2 linked regions of the Homo sapiens genome follow. The protein of the gene in region 1 interacts with the protein of each later gene in a pairwise test. Each region holds a gene or a part of one and is shown on either strand. Other genes may lie near its edges. The genes, in order: IVNS1ABP and AHR.

The links.
Region 2: the proteins of IVNS1ABP (region 1) and AHR interact in a two-hybrid assay, tested with the Homo sapiens proteins (one study listed by BioGRID).

Annotation. Positions count from the first base shown.
Region 1 is NC_000001.11:185,299,531-185,308,914, forward strand, and holds part of IVNS1ABP (influenza virus NS1A-binding protein), read right to left. Parts: intron 9,346-9,384; coding exon 9,270-9,345; intron 8,133-9,269; coding exon 7,959-8,132; intron 7,610-7,958; coding exon 7,484-7,609; intron 7,098-7,483; exon of another isoform or gene 6,958-7,097; coding exon of another isoform or gene 6,955-6,957; intron 6,114-6,954; coding exon 6,006-6,113; intron 2,034-6,005; coding exon 1,904-2,033; intron 1,667-1,903; coding exon 1,442-1,666; intron 1,029-1,441; coding exon 907-1,028; intron 814-906; coding exon 687-813; intron 601-686; coding exon 469-600; intron 354-468; coding exon 180-353; intron 1-179. UniProt on the Homo sapiens protein: Involved in many cell functions, including pre-mRNA splicing, the aryl hydrocarbon receptor (AHR) pathway, F-actin organization and protein ubiquitination.
Region 2 is NC_000007.14:17,328,520-17,337,903, forward strand, and holds part of AHR (aryl hydrocarbon receptor), read left to right. Parts: intron 1-1,432; coding exon 1,433-1,556; intron 1,557-2,236; coding exon 2,237-2,367; intron 2,368-5,392; coding exon 5,393-5,595; intron 5,596-6,367; coding exon 6,368-6,477; intron 6,478-7,125; coding exon 7,126-7,267; intron 7,268-9,384. UniProt on the Homo sapiens protein: Ligand-activated transcription factor that enables cells to adapt to changing conditions by sensing compounds from the environment, diet, microbiome and cellular metabolism, and which plays important roles in development, immunity and cancer.

The sequences.
Region 1 (9,384 bases):
TCTTTGATTAGAAAATATATTTCTAAAGGACAAATCACCCTAATCTCCATTGCATCAAAAGAGATGACTGCTTCTGAATTCTTAACTGTACAACTATAGTCATTGGCCTTTTCTCTCAGAGTTTTAGAACAAAGTCTTGCCACTATCTACTCTTCACCTCTCCAAATCCCAACACTCACCATTAAGAACAGCCACTCCAGCTCCTCGCCTAGCCACATTCATGGGTGCAATTAAAGTCCAGGTATTATTTTCAGGATTGTATCGTTCTACTGTGTTCAGACAATTCCAAGATTCTGCACCTCCGATTATGTACAAATAACCACCAAGCTCACAGACTGCAGACTGGTGTCTCCCTACAAGAAAAGTCAAGTCAAGATTATTGCTACATCTCCCAGACTCTAAGTGTATACTACACATACTGTTGATTTGAAGGTCTTTAAAAAAAAAAAGGAAAAAAAATCAACTTACGAATGTTAAGAGGGGCACAGCTTGTCCACAACTTTGTTACAGGATCAAATACATCACAATTTTTCAGTCCTTTTTGACCATATGGATCAGAGCCACCAACGATGTATAACTTTCCATTCAGAGCACACACTCCTATGTAAGTATAAAATAAAGTTACATATTGATAATTTAATTATCATATTTAAATACTGGATATCTCAGGAGAAAACTATTATTACCTGCATTACAACGGTTAGTTCTCAATTCTGGAACAGGAATCCAGTCATCTATGTTTGAATCATACATCTCTCCACAACTCAGGTCATCTGAGTGGCCATTTGATCCACCTACCACATAGAGCTGGCCCTATGCCAAAAGTGAGAGATGAGAATTTCTAACATCCTGAAGTTACGAGGAAAAAGCTAAATAGGGGTTGCTCCTGCAACATAATGCGCTTACCATGAGTACAGCCATTTGAAATCGGGCTCTTGGTGTTCTCATGGGAGCAAGAAAGGACCAGTGATCTGTATGTGGATTATAGCATTCGACTGTTCGAAGACATTCCTCTCTGTTATAGCCACCTGGTAAAAAATAAAACCATAAAGATTTATGTTTAAAATATTAAACTGGACCACGGTTTCCAGTCCTGTAAGTTTAAGAAATCTGCACAATGAGAAAAAGTATTAAAACTTTTTAAGGATGCCTTAGTTGATCTTTTAACTAAGTGCTTGTAATAGCTGAAAAATCGCATTATCAGTACAAATAAACTGCTTAGTCTTGGCTTGAATATTAGAAAAATTTAGCCATGACATAATTTTTTTAAAAATTAGATACAGACATTGAACTGAAGGTTAGCCATATTCAATAGTATTGTTATTTCCCTATCTTATTGGATTGCCGTGAAAGATGGCATATTAAACCCTCTCTTTGAAAGTTTGCATGTCACAAAAATGCCCATCTACATGCTTAGCCAGTTGAATGCTTCTGTTCTTACCTGCAGCTATGAGTTTGCCATTCATCTCTGCTGTTCCCAGACCAGATCGTGCGTACTGCATAGGAGACATGGGCTTTTCGATTAGCTCATCTTGTTGCATCTCAAAGCTTAAACTCTTACTTAGTTTTGGAGTACTTGTTGGTGAGCTCTGTGGGCTGTTTCTCCCATGAAGAAAAATGACACAGAATATACCATCCAGCACAGCCAGGCACAAGTAAGTGTTATCTGTAAGCACAAGAGTTCCATGTTTAAGATGTAATTATTACTTTTGGTTTGTGTATATGATCCTGAATTGGACTCCAGTCTCCACATCCCAGACTGGAACAATCTGCTCTCGTTTTCCAAATTTAATTGCTTCTGAGTTTTTTCCTCGAGTAGTCAATTTAAGAGGTATTAAATTGGCAACACTCCTTCTTAAAAATAGGTAAGCTGAAAACAATCTGGCAAGTGTCATATACTTACTTGAAGTCTTTTCTGAAGCAACGATTTTCCACTCATGCTTAGGGCTTTGTACTGTAGCATTTGGAGAAGAGAGACATCCAGTTGAACTGCTACTTATCTGCTTATGGCCATTCTCACGTGGTGGCTTTTTCTGCAAAATCAAAAGGTAGCTACAGAAACCTAGCCAAAGACCACATCTGATGTACCTTTGTTCCTGAGCTATTCCACAACACTGAGTATCCTTCACCTATATATGACATTTATAGGACACTAACTTTAACTCAAGCCAACACTTTCCAAATGACACAAATTACTGGCATACTTCCATCTCCACTCAATGATGAGACAACTACGCCTACACAATTAGCCTAGGTAAGAAAAAGCTCAGTTTTAACAATTTGAAAAACATGTTGCAAATCAAGACCTCAGCAGAAGAAAAAACCAATCTATAATTATTTTTATATTAAGTATAGAATCTTTTAAAAGAATGCTATAAATTTAAAATAGTGTGAATTAACAGAGAATACATTTAACCCACTATTTTCATGAAATTGTCAAACCTAACTAAATCATATGTACAGGTATCCTTCATACAATGCCAGCAAAACGTAAGCAGATATAGATTCATCCAGTTTCTCTGAAAGTACTTGACAGGAAAAAAGTGGCAATTACAAGAAACACTTAAAGAATATTTCTTTAGGATTACCTTATAGGTATTATAGAGTGGTTTTCTAGACAAAATTACATCAAAACACAAGAAAATAGTAATCAGAAATGAAACATTACTAAAAACAACCAAATATTCACAAAAGTAGAATATACAGGAATACTAAAGAGGGAGAAATGAACAAAGCTGCCAATTTCCAAATGATTGTAAGAGAACTACTTTACACATGTGTTCTCATGTATGAGTTTTCCTTGATGGCTTCCTTCCAATTACTTTAGCCTTTGCCACTTCCAAAGGATATGATCATATGGAATTGGAAGAGTAAAGACTACTCTGAGAGGAACTGCCAAATGAACAGGTAGCAACTTCAGCACCTGGCCTAGTTTGCTCATCCCACTTGTGCTGGTCCAGATGGCCAGAACACATGGATAGGTAAAATTTCTAATGGAAATTTCTGTTGCTAGTGGAAGCAAAAAGCCATATAACAAGTAATTGAGAAAAAGATTTTGCTAGCTACTTGAAGCTATTAAGAAAAAGCTATATCAAAAGTTAGGCCTGAGTGTGGTTACAACATACGTAGGCTATTTTGAGAAAAGGCAGGGAATGTATCATTATCAATGGTTATGATTAAATTCCACTTAGATGTTTACTATGTACCTAGGTATTACTAGGTACTTTATTTACATCATCTCTTTTAGTCCAGTGAGGGTGATATTATCTACCCATTTTATAGATAAAAATATTGAAACTCAAGAAGATATGCATTGCCCAAGGCAATACAACTAAAATAAAGATTAGGAATTATGAAGATAAACCCCATCCTTTTTATACTATGACAAGTTATGTCATACTATAAAACAGATTTACACTATGACAGGCTGTTTTCCACTGTTACTAAAGTTGTGAATGCATCTTTCATATCACTTTTATACTATGAATATTAAGAATAAAAAATAAGGTTAGACTTATCTAACCTTATCTATTATTATGAATTACAAGGTACATAAAACCTCATCCCAACCTATGGGAAGAAGGGATCCAAATATCACAAATGGATGATGCTTACATTGAGGCTGTACTGAAGTAAAAAAACTGTTCTAATGTACAAACTATAATTAAGAGAAAATGACTGTGAAAGAGAAAGGCCCAAAAGCAATGCCTAATAACAAGCCTAATATAGAAATGCTGATTAAATCCTTTATATGTAAAGAATATATCCCTAAACCTTATTTTACATGACCTCCCAGAGAACTTGACAGTGTTTAGTCCTCCTTCAAACTTTCTTCTCCTACCTTAGGTAGCTTTTACAACATGATTAGATTCTTATTGTCCTCTGACTTTTCTAATGGCTTCTTCTCAACCTCCTTTTTCTATTCCTGAAGTCTAACATGTGTCCCTCGCATCCTCTTCATGATCTCTATTCATGGCATCACATTCTAATGAGTCACACATGTCAGAATCCCACTTATTCTCAAATTCTTTCTTTTCCCTAATCTTGCTAAGCAATCACTAAGGCCTGCTAAGTCAACCTTTGTAAATATAAATGTCTATTTATATATAGACATAAATAAAAAATCTATCCTTTCTCCTTCATGCCCCTAGATTAATCCCTCATCATTTTTTTAAAACCTGAACTACTGCTGGCAATAGTCTATAAACTGGGCTCAAACTTTTATTGATTTTCTGTGTCTGGTTATAAAAATAGGAAGGGTCCAAGGCAACAATTTTAGAAAATAAAACCAGAAATCAGTTGGGATATTCCAGCCCAAAGACTGCCACCTAATAGACTGTTCCCCAGTTTTTCACCATTACTAAAGTGAATGCAAAACTTTCGTATCACTGTATTCTTACCTAAGGCTTCCCACTGCCTATAGGATAAAGTATAAGCCCCATTCAGGGAGCATTTACCTACTTTCCCAGTCTTATGACCTGCAATTCCAAGAGTATCATCCTCACAGATACTCTTTGCTAACACCTCTCCCTTTATCTGCTATGCAGACTCCTCTAAATCCTAACACTGCTCAAAAGTTACCTCTTGTGTGAAATATCCCTGGCTTCTCTCCTGTCTCACTGTGTCCTCTCCTTTAGGCCTTTCGTAGCTACCTCTTATAAGCCTGTATTGTTTTGCCCACTCTTAGAAGGTCCTACAAGCAGAAACTGTCTCTTACACATTTTTGTGTTGCCATACCGAACATTATGGCCTGCCACTTATTGGGCACTCAACCTCTGCATGTTGAAAATGTACTTTTAAAATGTTAACTCAAAATGTTTAGAGTTAAGGGGGAAAATATCCTCAATATATTCAAAATGCACAAACATAGGTTCTCAACTAATTCAAATTCCAAAACTTTTAGAAATATTCACTCACTGTTGCCACAGGACACCTGAGAGAGCTAACACCTGATAATTTGTAACCATATAGGCTACTACTAAGTCTACCACTTACCCTCTGATTTTTAAAGAAAAGCATTCCTTAGTCTGGGCTGAGTCGACTGCTTTATAGCTTGTCCCTCAAAAACATAATTTGAGCTAAAGGCCAAATAAAAATATATACTATATGACCATTTATATAAATTTTTTCAAGCATAGCCAAACTAATTTAATGTGTCAGAAGGTAGGATAATGGTTTCCTTTGGGAGCACTATACGGAAACGGTTGGGAAGAGGCAAGAGAAAGGCTGCCGGGATGCTAGAAACCTCTTCTTGACTTGGGTAGTGTTTACACTGGTAGGTTCACTATGTGGTAATTATGACTTGTGTACTTTTCTGTATTTGTCCATAAACTTAAAAAATTTATACTTGAGAAGTTTGTTCTCTAGTAATTGTTGATAATGTGTCTGAATAATTATGTGTTTACTCATAGGGGAAAAATGAAATTGGATTTTATAAAAGGCAAAGTAACTCAATCAGCACAGTGGAACTCTACTATATTTTAATTCATCTTGGTTAAAGAAACATCTAGATCAGGTTTTAACATATGATCCACCACTTTTAGACTTATTACATTGTATAGTCCATCTTAACTATACCATTTCTAATTTCCAGTAAGACAGCTCAGTAGTTAAGGTAACATCCAAAAATTTCTTTCATAGCCATCAACAATTTAAGTCCCCCTGCCCCTTTTTAAAAAAAACTATCAGTCATGCCTGACACAAACAACTGCTTTTCATAATCTTCCCAAATAATTTCTATATTGTTCCATCTTATTGGCCTTTACTGTTTGTAATTCCTGCTTTATGAGAAAAAAATTTCAATAGGGTTTCCTAATTTGTTAATATCTTTTCATGTGGCAAAAATACTAACTCTAAGATATGCTTGTTTTCTCCCAAAAATGTTTCTGTCCAGTTATACCAATGAAATTGGTCCACTTTCCTTTATTAAAGGAAAATTTAAGTATGCTATCAAATTCTCTAGTCAAATTTTAACCTGAGGTTACCTCAGACTGTGCAATGTGTACCTGCACAAACTGAATGTGGTCATCATCACTGCCAAACACCTCAGCCTGTCCATCTAGTAGGTTCCCATCAAGCAGCTTGTGATCAGCTGAGTAGTACAAGGTTTGAACCTGCAAAACAGCAACAGAACACCCATGTGGCTACGGTCACCATGGCTACTCCACTAGTATGCAGATTACACAAACGCCTCAAGGTAACCTCCAGTGTGCTTCTTGAGCTTCTTGACATATTACTCTGGCAGGATCCGGAGGTAAAGAAAAATACATGTCATGGTGGTAAAAATTAAAAAACAAAAACAAAAAACCAAAATCAAATACAAAATCTTCCAATACTGGCTGAAGAGTCGTTGGCTTGATTGGCTTGAAAGAAATCTTCATTTTTTTCATAGCTTCTATCATATAACAGTAAGAAAAAAAGCACTAGTACAATATATACTCTTAAAGAATATACATATTTACAATAAAATACTGAATATAGTTTACACCTTTGCAGATAAGTGGTCTGGTTTGCATAAACATATTTCCTTCCTGTAAGCAATGTCAAGAAAAACAAAGAAAAAACAAATGCAAAAATTCAAGCAAGCTGTAGAGTCATCTCCATTGAGACAGATGCAAATACATGGCAAATGCATCTGACTTTCAAGTGGGAATCATAGAATTTAAAGATAATCTGTTAGCCCTTTTAGACCATAATGATGACAGTGTTTCTGCAGGCCTAACAGATTTGGTAAGCCCTCATAAAGGAACTCCGAAAGGTTTAAGTGGAGAGAGAAACTCAAGGTTACTCCACTGCTCCACCTGCGTGTTTTCAATTCCCACCATTTCTCCATCAATTTTATCTTGTGTATTTTTTTTAAAAGTAGCCCAAGTTAAGTGAGTGACTATATGTATGAACAACACCATTGAAAAACACACAGCTTTAAAGACAAGAATCCTGTAAAGGAGTAAACACCATTAAATCATCATCGTTCTCTGCCCACAGCGGATTTTTCTTAGGAGAACTGGGGCAGGACTGCTGCTTCTTTACGTGTCAATACACTTGAGGTTTCTTCTTGTTTCTTCAGTCTTGGGTATCCTAGTTTTGTTAATAAACCTATGGGGAGATAAATCAATGGGGAGGAACAACCATTAGAAGCTTTTACCTACTTGTCAAATTTAAAGCAAAAACCTGTGAAGAAAAATTAAGAATCTACAGAAAATTTCAGTACCACTTCCCATTTCTAAAGCAAATTACATGCTACTTTAAAGAAAGTTAACAGCACATAATAAGCAAAGAAATAAAAAAAGAAAAGCAGAAGACCAAACTGAACAGTTCATTCAGCTCACCTGGACACCCCCCCTGTTTCTCAGCTTAGGGGTACCTATAGCAAAATTTAAATTCTTTAGGGTCATGGTTATAAAATAAAAGTGAAAGGGAATCCTTCATGTTATAGCAAAATAATTTTTAAAAATGGTTGAATCCCATTTACTTTAAAACTAACCTCTTCCATCAGCTCTTCCAGACTGTCTCCATTCTCCCAGATGCTACGCTGCACCCAGTTGATTACCTTTGTATATAATTTGCCATTGCTGGGCAAGCAAACATTATCTTCAAGCATTACCTCCAACTAGAATTGGGAAAAACAATGACATGGATCAGTGTTGGGCTCCTAGTTCTCAGCTTAATTCCCAATTTCATAATAAAGTTGTCACAGATGCACAATTCATTCCATACATTTACTCTAATTTGTAAGGAACCAGGAATTTGTAAGGAACCAGGAATTTGTAAGGAATTTGATTACTGAATCAAAAACAAAGTAAACAAACTGGTAGGGAGAAACCCATTACGCTGCTAAGAATAACAATATAATTTCAATGTATTATTTCATAATCATTACTCACTTGCTTGAAACACAGACCAAGATTCCACGCCTGGAACTAGATAGTATATATCTGTTTATAGACTTTACTCCTTACCTTTAGCCTTGGAAGCTTAAGAAACTCCTCCTCTTCAGAAATTTGTAACAAATGCTCCTGAATATAAGCATCAACCTTATTCAACAAACGGGAGTCTCCCATACAACTTGCAAAATTTCGGTAAGAGATGCAGCTGGTAACATCCATTCTAGACAGTAAATAATCACCACAAACCTTGGAAAAGAAATATATGAGTGCCAACACTTACATATCTTTTATTCAACAAATATTTAATGTTCAGTGTGGTAAAGACTATGTGAAGATACAAAGAATCAAAAATCACTGTCTTAATACAACAAATGTTAATAGTGGTAATAACACGTATACAAATGATAAACATCTAATTATGCCATACAGATATGTAAGTTTTAGTTTAAGGAGAGGTACAACAAATTGAAATGCTATGTAAGTTCACATAAGTATTTTCAAGTAGAATAATTTGGTAAGGCTTCATGAAACGCAGTATCTGAACTGGGCTCTACAGGAGAGATGATGTTGATGTTGAATGCAGACAGAAGTAGAGAAGATGCTGCAAACAATTTAATTTGGTTGGAGAAAAGATAACTAGGAAATAGTTTTGGAAAGACAGCAACTATATAAGGGAAAATCTAGAAACTAAATGCAGGGATATGTACTGTAAATTAAGGAAGGATTTTTGAACAAAGGAGTGGTATTAGAAGAAGGGCTAGCAAATCAAACTTTTTCTTAAAGGGCCAGATAGTAAAAGCATTTTAGGCTTGTAGGCCATTCTGTTTGTCACAACTGCTCAATTCCGTCACTGTAGCTGGAAAGCAGTGTAGACCATATGTAAATGAACACACATGGCTGTGTTTGAATAAAACTTTATAAAAATAGGCAGCTGGCCAGTAGGCCTTAAGTTTACTGACCCCCATGCATTAGGGGATTAAATGCCTGTTTTCCAAAAGTACTTTTTACTGGCATTAAATTCTAGAAGGAATACTTTTAGAGAGCACAGGAAGTTTAGGAGAACACAGAATTGAGGATATAAGTTATGTGATTAACTCTTAAGAAAAATATTAATTTTAATTCATGCTATCAAAGGCTGACATAGCCACCCTACCAGAGAAGATTGCTGAAAGGGTCAGACTTCAGCCCAAATTATCTGAGAAGAAGTGTGATCTTGCTACATTATTATAGCCAAACAGTTAAAATAACATATTGACTACTCTGAGGGAAAAAAGGGACATGTTCAAGTCCTTGAAACTAACAAGATGTTTTATGACAAATTCAGCATTGCAATCACACAAAATAAGACTCCATAAATGATTTTATTTACTTCTGATACTCTACCTGCTTTACTCGATCCATCTTCAGCTTTTTTGCTGCAGAATAAACATCTTTTACCAATTCCTTATCTGCTTTCAACCTATTTAAAAAAAAAGTTACTTATGATACCAAAGCCTTA
Region 2 (9,384 bases), on another chromosome or scaffold:
ATATATCTGGTTCTCAAATTGTACTGTGCACAAGAATCACCTGAAGACCTTGATAAAACTTGGTCATCCCTGTGAGCCCCATTGTCAGATATTCTGAATCAGTAGTTCACAGTGGGGCCCATGAATTTGCATTTCTATTAAGCTCACAAGGCTGCTGGTCTTAATAACAGTTATATAGACTAGAGCTTCAACTATATTATATACCCAGTGGAAACCACTGAAGGGTTTTGTTACAGGGGGTGTGTATATTTCAACTTGTGTTTCAGATGCAACTTTTGGAAATTGTGTAATGGTTGGCATCAAGATGATTTAATACTAGAAGATTAGGTTCCTAGGAAGATTTAAGTGTAGATGACTAAAGTAGTGGTATCTAGCTACTACTGCTACCACAAAGTCTAAACTCCTGATTTCTTGCATTCTAAAGAAAATACATTAATGTCCATAGAAAAGCCTGTTTGAAGCCTAATGTATTATATAACTGTCTTAATCAGGATTTGATATTGTGATTTATATTAGTAAGAAAATCAGAGAGATTAGCCATTTTCCAATCCATTTTTTTCTCGCATATACACATGGATTTTTTTCCTAAAAGAATATTCATATCTGACGCAAGTGGTAGATTAAGACACCATTTTTAAAACTGCAAGTTATGACTCGCTCATGGGTATGCAGTCGAGACAGTGGATCACTATCAAACTGTTTTTTAGTTGTTTAGGATAGAATAAAATAATATAGAATACACAGTGTTATCTCATGTAATAATGGTAAGTGTTTTGTGAAACTTTTCCATGTGTTTATGTCTGTGCACACACCTGTGACAGATGGAAATGTATTTTTTATCATAACTTGCAGTTAAAAAAAAAGGAAAACTCTGGTTTAAGCACTAAGGACTCAGCACCGTAGTAAATGGTGAGAGGCAAGAGAAGGAAAGTGGGTTTAATATGGTAAAGGCACAATCCCTTGCTCTTGTGGAGTCTACTTGGAGTGAAAATTTTATATGAAGAAAATTTTAGAGAACAGTGAAGGAAATACATAAAGAATACCATTAAGCTTAGAGAAGTCAAAGAGGCCTGGGGTGGTTAGGAAAAGCTGCATGGAAGAGATAAGAATCTAAAAACTAACAAATGAATATGGAACATAAACAGATTTTAATATGTTGCATTTAAGGAATGGGGATGTGACTTATTTGAGCAAGAGCATTCATGTTGGGAACTGATGACAAGTAACTTTTGGCTTATCTGTTGTAGTGCCAGTCTCTTTAGCTTTTTCTACCTTAGGTTCTATCTTAGGTGACTAGGGAATTTTAGGAATCATTCAATTCGTATTCATCACCACTAGCAAGCACCCACTAATCTAAATAGGCTTTAAAATTAATTTAGCCATATTTTTTAATCAGTCCTTTTGTTGTATTCCTTGTATCTTTTTTCTTTAGTCTGATGTCATACATCAGAGTGTATATGAACTTATCCATACCGAAGACCGAGCTGAATTTCAGCGTCAGCTACACTGGGCATTAAATCCTTCTCAGTGTACAGAGTCTGGACAAGGAATTGAAGGTAAGAATTGATGGTACAAAAAATAGTGTTGGTAGTTTTTAAATATGAGTCTGTGAAAGGAGGCTGGGAACCTGTAGGGTCATAGAACTCCATGATAGGGAAGTAGTGGAAAGATGTAAAGTCTGCAATCATAGGCCACAGCTAGGTCACAAAGAGCCTGATGAGCTAAGGAATATTTTGGCAAATGAGAGCCATTTAATGAGTTTCAGGCAACAGAGTATTGCCATAGTCAGTAATGTATTTTATAAAAATAAGTAGTACCTTCATGAAAGATGGAAGGAAGGTACAAGGTTGATACCTGAGTGCATGTAAATTATTGTGTTTAAAATGCACCAAAGAAAAAAGTAAGCTAGCATATGCAAGTATAAAAATGCTTTTCTCAATGCAAAAAATGTTTTTGGAAATTTGTTAAAGTGTTAAGAAAACAAAAATGCATTAGAAAATATGAAAATTGTTGACAGTGATAGCTCAATAAAAATTTAAAAAATTATGCAAGTTCTATCTGATAAAAGTGATATTTAATAAACTTTTAGTTTCTTGTCATTAGCTCTTTTGAAAATGATTTTTTTGTATTCAGAACACAGACTCCAGTTTAGAAACTAATACAAATTTTACCTATTCAAGTGCTTAATTTTACAGCAAAATGGAAAGTAAATTTTGTTTTGCCTTTATTTCTACAGAAGCCACTGGTCTCCCCCAGACAGTAGTCTGTTATAACCCAGACCAGATTCCTCCAGAAAACTCTCCTTTAATGGAGAGGTGCTTCATATGTCGTCTAAGGTGTCTGCTGGATAATTCATCTGGTTTTCTGGTAAGGTACAAAATTTTATGATACTGGCTTTTACTATTGTTACAATAAAAGCTTGAGGCAAATTTAATTTAGCAAAATATAATTCAGCAGAGAACTATTCCCAAATCAGGCAACCCTCAGAACCAGAGAGCTTCAGAGAGCTCACTTAAAAACATGGGCTGGAGCATTTATGAACAGAAAATGCAAGTGAGGTACAGAAATGGCTTGATTGATTACAGCTTGGGATTTGCCTTATTTGAAGATGATCTGATTAGTTGGCCACCTGTGACTGACTGAGACTCAGCTATTTGGTTACAAAAGTTTAATTCTACTGTTAGGCTTTCCGTTAGCTTATATAGTAAATGAAGTTGCAATTCCTTGGTAAGGACTTAAGGAGCAGAGGCATCTTCAGCCCAAATTTAGTTTAACATTAAGTTATAGAAAAAACAAGCCAATTTTCTTTGGTTATCTTTGATTTCAGCTTTAAAAATCTGCTACCAAATAATTTGATAAAGGAAAGTAACATTTTAAAGTAATTATTTCTGATTTTGACTATCTTCTATAACTCAGAAAACTGTTCTTTAGGATATAGTAACAAAAATTGAGTGAAATAACACGAAGCCTTGTATTTTGACTATTTTAGGATTTTTAAGGTATGAGAGAATTATGTAGCCCTTTTTTAATAGGAGGATGCTTACCATCTTGGGATTGAATGCCTGCTAGACAGAGAAATTATGGCCTTTCCATATGTCTCAAATAACTGCCACATAGAAAAACGATTGTATATTCATGATTGTGGAATCATCATTTGATAGGAGATGCTGTTTTCTTGTTACAAAGTCTGAACACCTGCATAGGAGTTGACTGTAGGGAACAGCTTAGGATTCCTCAGAGTGGACTTGTCTGTTATCTCATTGTATCCTTAGCTCATGTTACCAAGTACAGGAGAAGAAAATACAAAGTATATTGTATATTCTTTTTGTGAATAACAAGGAATTTGAAACAGATAATCAAATCTTAAATTAACATTACCAAGCAATGATTTTTGTTTATGTGTTTATTTCTGAAGAGGATTTTGCTGACCCAGAATTAGAATTATGCTTTGAGACAGTTTTCCCAGTGTTATTGCTCATGAACAATTAGTATGTAGAGTCATGTCCTGCATAATGATGCTTTGGTCAATAACAGACCATGTATATGATGGTAGTCCCATGAGATCATAATGGAGCCGAAAAATCCCTATCACTTAATGATGTCATAGCATTGCTCACATGTTGATGGTGATGCTGATGGAAGCAAACCTGTGTTGCCAGTCATATAAAAAGTATAGCACATACAATTATATATGATACATAATACTTGAAAATAAAACAATAATAAATCACTATGTATTTACTATTAATCATTATTTTACTTTATTTTTAAATGTATTATACTTTTAATTATTTTATTTTAATCATTATTTTAGAATAAGGTTAACTGTAAAACAGGCTCAGGCAGGTCCTTCAGGAAATATTCCAAAAGAAGGCATTGTTATCACAGGAGATGACAGCTCCATGCATGTTATTGCCCCCGCAGACCTTCCAGTGGGACAAGATGTAGAGGTGGAAGATAGGATCATTAATGATCCTCACCCTGTACAGACCTAAGCTAATGTGTGGGTTTGTGTCTTAGTTTTTAACAAAAAAAGTTTAAAAAGTAAAAAAATTAAAAATTAAAAAATAGAAGAAAGCTTATAGAATAAGGATATAAAGAAAGAAAATGTTTTTGTATGGCTGTACACTGTGTTTAAGTGTTATTACAGAAGAGTCAAAAGTTAAAAATGCAAAAGTTTATGAAGTAAAAATGTTACAGTAAACTGTGCTGGGATTACAGGCATAAGCCACTGCACCTGGCCAAAAGGAAAATATTTTTTATAAATTCAGCGTAGCCTAAGTGTATAGTGTTTATAAACTCTATAGTAGTGTACGGTAATGTCTCAGGCCTTCACATTCACTCACCACTCACTCACTGACTAAACCAAAGCAACTTTCAGTCCTGCCTACCTTGTTTACAATAAGTGCTCTTATACAGGTATACCATTTTTTGTCTTTTATACTGTATTTTTACTGTATATTTTCTATGTTTAGATACACAAATACTTACCATCATGTTACAATTGCTTTAAGTATTCAGTACGATAGCATGCTGTACAGGTTTGTAGCCTAGGAACAAAAGGCTATACTGTATAGCTTAGATGCGTAGTAAGCTATACCATCTAGGTTTGTGAACCTACCCTCTGATGTTCACAGGATAATGAAATTGCCTAAGGACACATTTCACAGAACATGCCCCTTTTGTTAAATGACATGTGAGTGTATGTCTGAGGTGGAATATCTGTGTGCAGGAGGGCCTTTTCCTCCTTGTGCTGCTATTATTTTGATGTCAGAACCATCCCTTGGACTGGTTGATATTGTTTTAAGCAATTAAATATATCATGTTCATGTTTAAGTGCCTTTGTTTTCCCTGTCTTCTAAATTTCTTCCATATCTTTACTCAGTAGGGCTCTGCATTCTTTATATGTTTTCATGATGATTCATTTTAGTGTCTTAATAAAATTATATTTTGCCTCTATAGAAAAGATTATGAACTATGCAGTATGCTATGAGCTGTGATATAGTTCATGTATGCTTGAAAATGAATGTTTACTTTAGGACTTTATCACCATTCAGGATATATTGATTGCCTGGTGTGCAAGGAGCTGTGTGAGGTGAAAATGATAGGGTAATGGCAAGCTTGGAAAATGATATAGGTTTTCATGTTATGACCATTAGGAACAAGGAGTGGTTCACTTATCCCTTTAGAATATTTTTCATATTACTCTTTGAGATAGATTTAATGGGCGTCCCATGGAGAGAGGAGTGAAGGAAACTAACAGTTCTCAGCTTCAGGAATATTTATGGAATTATCAAGAACCCTAGAGGCAGCCATAATGGAGCCTTTTAAAAAGGCACTATTTTATATTGTTAATTTTAATGAACTTTTTTGTTGTTGTTGCTTTTTTAAGGCAATGAATTTCCAAGGGAAGTTAAAGTATCTTCATGGACAGAAAAAGAAAGGGAAAGATGGATCAATACTTCCACCTCAGTTGGCTTTGTTTGCGATAGCTACTCCACTTCAGCCACCATCCATACTTGAAATCCGGACCAAAAATTTTATCTTTAGAACCAAACACAAACTAGACTTCACACCTATTGGTTGTGATGCCAAGTAAGTGAGACTTTTTCACTTTTATTTTATTGGATGTACATTATGTTTCAGTAAGTCTCTCTTAGCATGTAAAACATACAGTGTATGTAATATTGTTTATTATTAGATTGGCTATTATCGTACATTCTTCCAGTGTAGCCTTTTACAGTAAAATAATTTAATCAGGCTCACAAATCATCTTTTTAATTTTTGCAATACTTGTCTCAAATGATGATGTTCTTATATATTAGTAAGGTTTATTCTTCTGATGACATTTATGTTGGTTTGTTTTACATTTTTAAATGGCACAAATGTTATTTGATTTCTAGCCCCAGAAGTTTTAGTAACTTTCAGAAAATTGTGAGCAGGAGTCTGATATTAAACATTTATATCATATCAAACATATCAGTGCTTTTCTCCTTTCTAATGTGGGAATGCAGAGAGGTAATTAGAAAAACCTTCTTCCCTAAAAATAGATTATAAAAACATTCCAGATTTTTATTAAAGATGTTCTGTTACCCATACATCTGCTCTATTAGATTCATTTTTAGCATACTAATTTCCATGGATTTATTCAGGAAAAGAAAATAGGCTGAAACTGAAATTTGCAATCATAAGCAAAGAAGATCAGTTTACATGGATGTGTTTAATTTCACATCTACTTATGTGAAATTCTAAATGTGAACTAAAACATATTGCAGAAACTAGCGTAAAACCAATGAATTTATCTTGGTTATTTCATTTATGTTAAATCTTAATCCATTCTTATTTTACCTTTTTTTATTTTAAACAGAGGAAGAATTGTTTTAGGATATACTGAAGCAGAGCTGTGCACGAGAGGCTCAGGTTATCAGTTTATTCATGCAGCTGATATGCTTTATTGTGCCGAGTCCCATATCCGAAGTAAGTTGTAGTTCCTTATGAACATGTCAGAAGAAAACGGCATATACTGTTGTACATGTTTCAAATTCTTACGTAATGTAAAGTGTTTAAGTAAAGTATATGGATAAACTTCTACTTAGTAACATATCATTATGATTAACCAGGGTTACACTCTTTGTTCATTAACTTGTCTACACCTGCCATGTAGAAATATTGTTGTTTAGTTATTAAAAAATGACCATTTTGGCCCATGAAGTTTTGCTTGGGAATTTTTTAATTACATCGTTATCAATTCATAAATCTATGTTAATATTGTAACAATAATAGTGTTAATAATTCTAGTTTAAAATTATAAAGTATTAGGCTGTAGGAAAATATTCCCTATTTAAAATGAAAATAATTTTTTCCCCAACTTATGTTCTCTCTATACTTTCCTGTGTTACTAGAATTGTTTGGTACATAATCTTCCCTTTAACATTTAAAATAATAAATTTAAAACAACTCTGAAAAACTATTTCCATGCCTTTTATTATTTTTTGTTTAAAATTTATTGTCTTTGGGGATAAAGGAAATACATCCAGAACTATGTCACAAGAGCTTTGTTTTAGGAATAATCTTTACTATATTGATTTGGGGGTTTGATAATTTAATTTTTTAATTTTATTTTAGTGATTAAGACTGGAGAAAGTGGCATGATAGTTTTCCGGCTTCTTACAAAAAACAACCGATGGACTTGGGTCCAGTCTAATGCACGCCTGCTTTATAAAAATGGAAGACCAGATTATATCATTGTAACTCAGAGACCACTAACGTAAGCACAAATAATGTTTCCTGTTTTAACAGTTTTGTTTTCATAAGTCCTCTTATGTGAAAGCATAAAAATAATTCAAGCAGACTTTAGTCTGTAAATAAAAATTGAAAAGTTTAATTCATCTAGAAAGAAGAGCACAGGTGAGAGACATTGAGAAGATAGAATTGACGAACTTGATTGAGAGCTACATGTGCAGAGCTATAGAAAGAATAATAAAACTCTAGGGTTTTATCTTGGGCATATGAAAGACACATGAAAAGCTAGTGTCATTGGTAAAAAAGAAGAAAAATATAACAATGCTTTATTTAGAATATATTCTCTAAACCCAGCAGTGATTTTAAGAGTTTCTTACACATGCTGCAGATGAGTCCTTTATCAAATATTTGTATTGCAAATGTTTCCTCCCACTCTGGAGAATTGATTTTTGTCTGTAGCTTGAGGTAAGGATTGATTCCCCCCAGCCATTATACGTATACCCAATTGACCAGTAACATTGAAAAGATGATTTACCGAGAAGGTCATTGTTTCCCGGCTGCGCTGTATTTTGATCAGGGGATTTTGTCTGTGGTTCTCTGTCTGGATTGTGTTGTTCTATTAATAGCTCCATTAGTGCAGTTGTCTATTTTGTCTAGCATTACACTGTCTTAGTTATTCTATCTTTATTATATATTTCTATGTCAGAGTGTGTCATTTTGTTTGTTTTGCCTTTTTTGTTCTCCTTCAAGATTGCCTTGGTTCTTCTTTGCCCTCTATAATTCCATATACATTTTAGAAAGCAGTTGTCTGAAAATCTGTTGAGATTTTGAGTGCAATTACCTTGAAACTGTAGATCATTTGGGGAGAATTAACATCTTTTTAATACTGAATCTTTGAGCCCATGAACATGATGAATGTATGTATGTGTATAAGTACCCATGGAAGTACATGAGTATGTGTGTACCATATGTATATGAGTGCATGGGTATGTGTGTACCTCTACAAATTTGTCACTTCTCCCTTGATCAATGTTTCTAGAAGGCACTTTTTTTAATTAGATTTTATTAGTCTTTATTAGGATCCAACTTTTGGTTTATTGATTTTTTTCTATTTTATACATTTGTTTTCAATTTTAATTATGTCTGCTCATTATTATTTTCTTCCTTCTACTTTCTTTGGGTATAATTTATCATTTTTTGCAACTTTTAAAAAATATATACTTAAACATATATATCAGTTTCCCTTTAAGTACAGCATTACAACCCTCATCTTTTGCTATCTTATTTTTATTATTTAATTGAAAATACTGGCTAATTTGTTTTTATTTTTATTCATGAATTATTTAGAAATACAGTGTTACTGTACTTTTTGGTGTTTGGGGATTTTTCTAGTTGCCTTTTTATGATTGACTTTTAGCTTAATTCCATTGTAGTCAGAAAATATTCTCTGGATGGATTTCAGTTTTTTTGAAATTTGTGGTGACTTATTTTATGATCTAATACATGGTCTATGTTGGTAAAATATCCCATGTAATCCTATGAAGAATACATGTTCTGTAGTTTGGGAGTATCTTATTTTTATATATCAGAAGTCTAGTTTGTTAATTGTGTTCATATTTGTATACATTTGTTGATATTTTATGTGCTTCTGTTAGTTACTAAGACATTTTGTTTTCATTTATTACTGAAGGGGGGCATCTTTTTACATCTTTCTGTTTTTTTTTTTTTTTTGAGATGGAGTCTCGCTCTGTCGCCCAGGCTGGAGTGCAGTGGCGGGATCTCGGCTCACTGCAAGCTCCGCCACCCGGGTTCACGCCATTCTCCTGCCTCAGCCTCCCAAGTAGCTGGGACTACAGGCGCCCGCCACTACGCCCGGCTAATTTTTTTGTATTTTTAGTAGAGATGGGGTTTCACCGTTTTAGCCAGGATGGTCTCAATCTCCTGACCTCGTGATCCGCCCGCCTCAGCCTCCCAAAGTGCTGGGATTACAGGCGTGAGCCACCGCGCCCGGCCCTTTTTACGTTTTTCTATGACATTTTTCTTTTATAAATTACATTTGTATCATTTACCTGTTTTTCTGTTGAGTTGTTTGCCTCTCTCTCAGACTCTATTGGAGCTCTTTATTATGGATATGAAATTTTA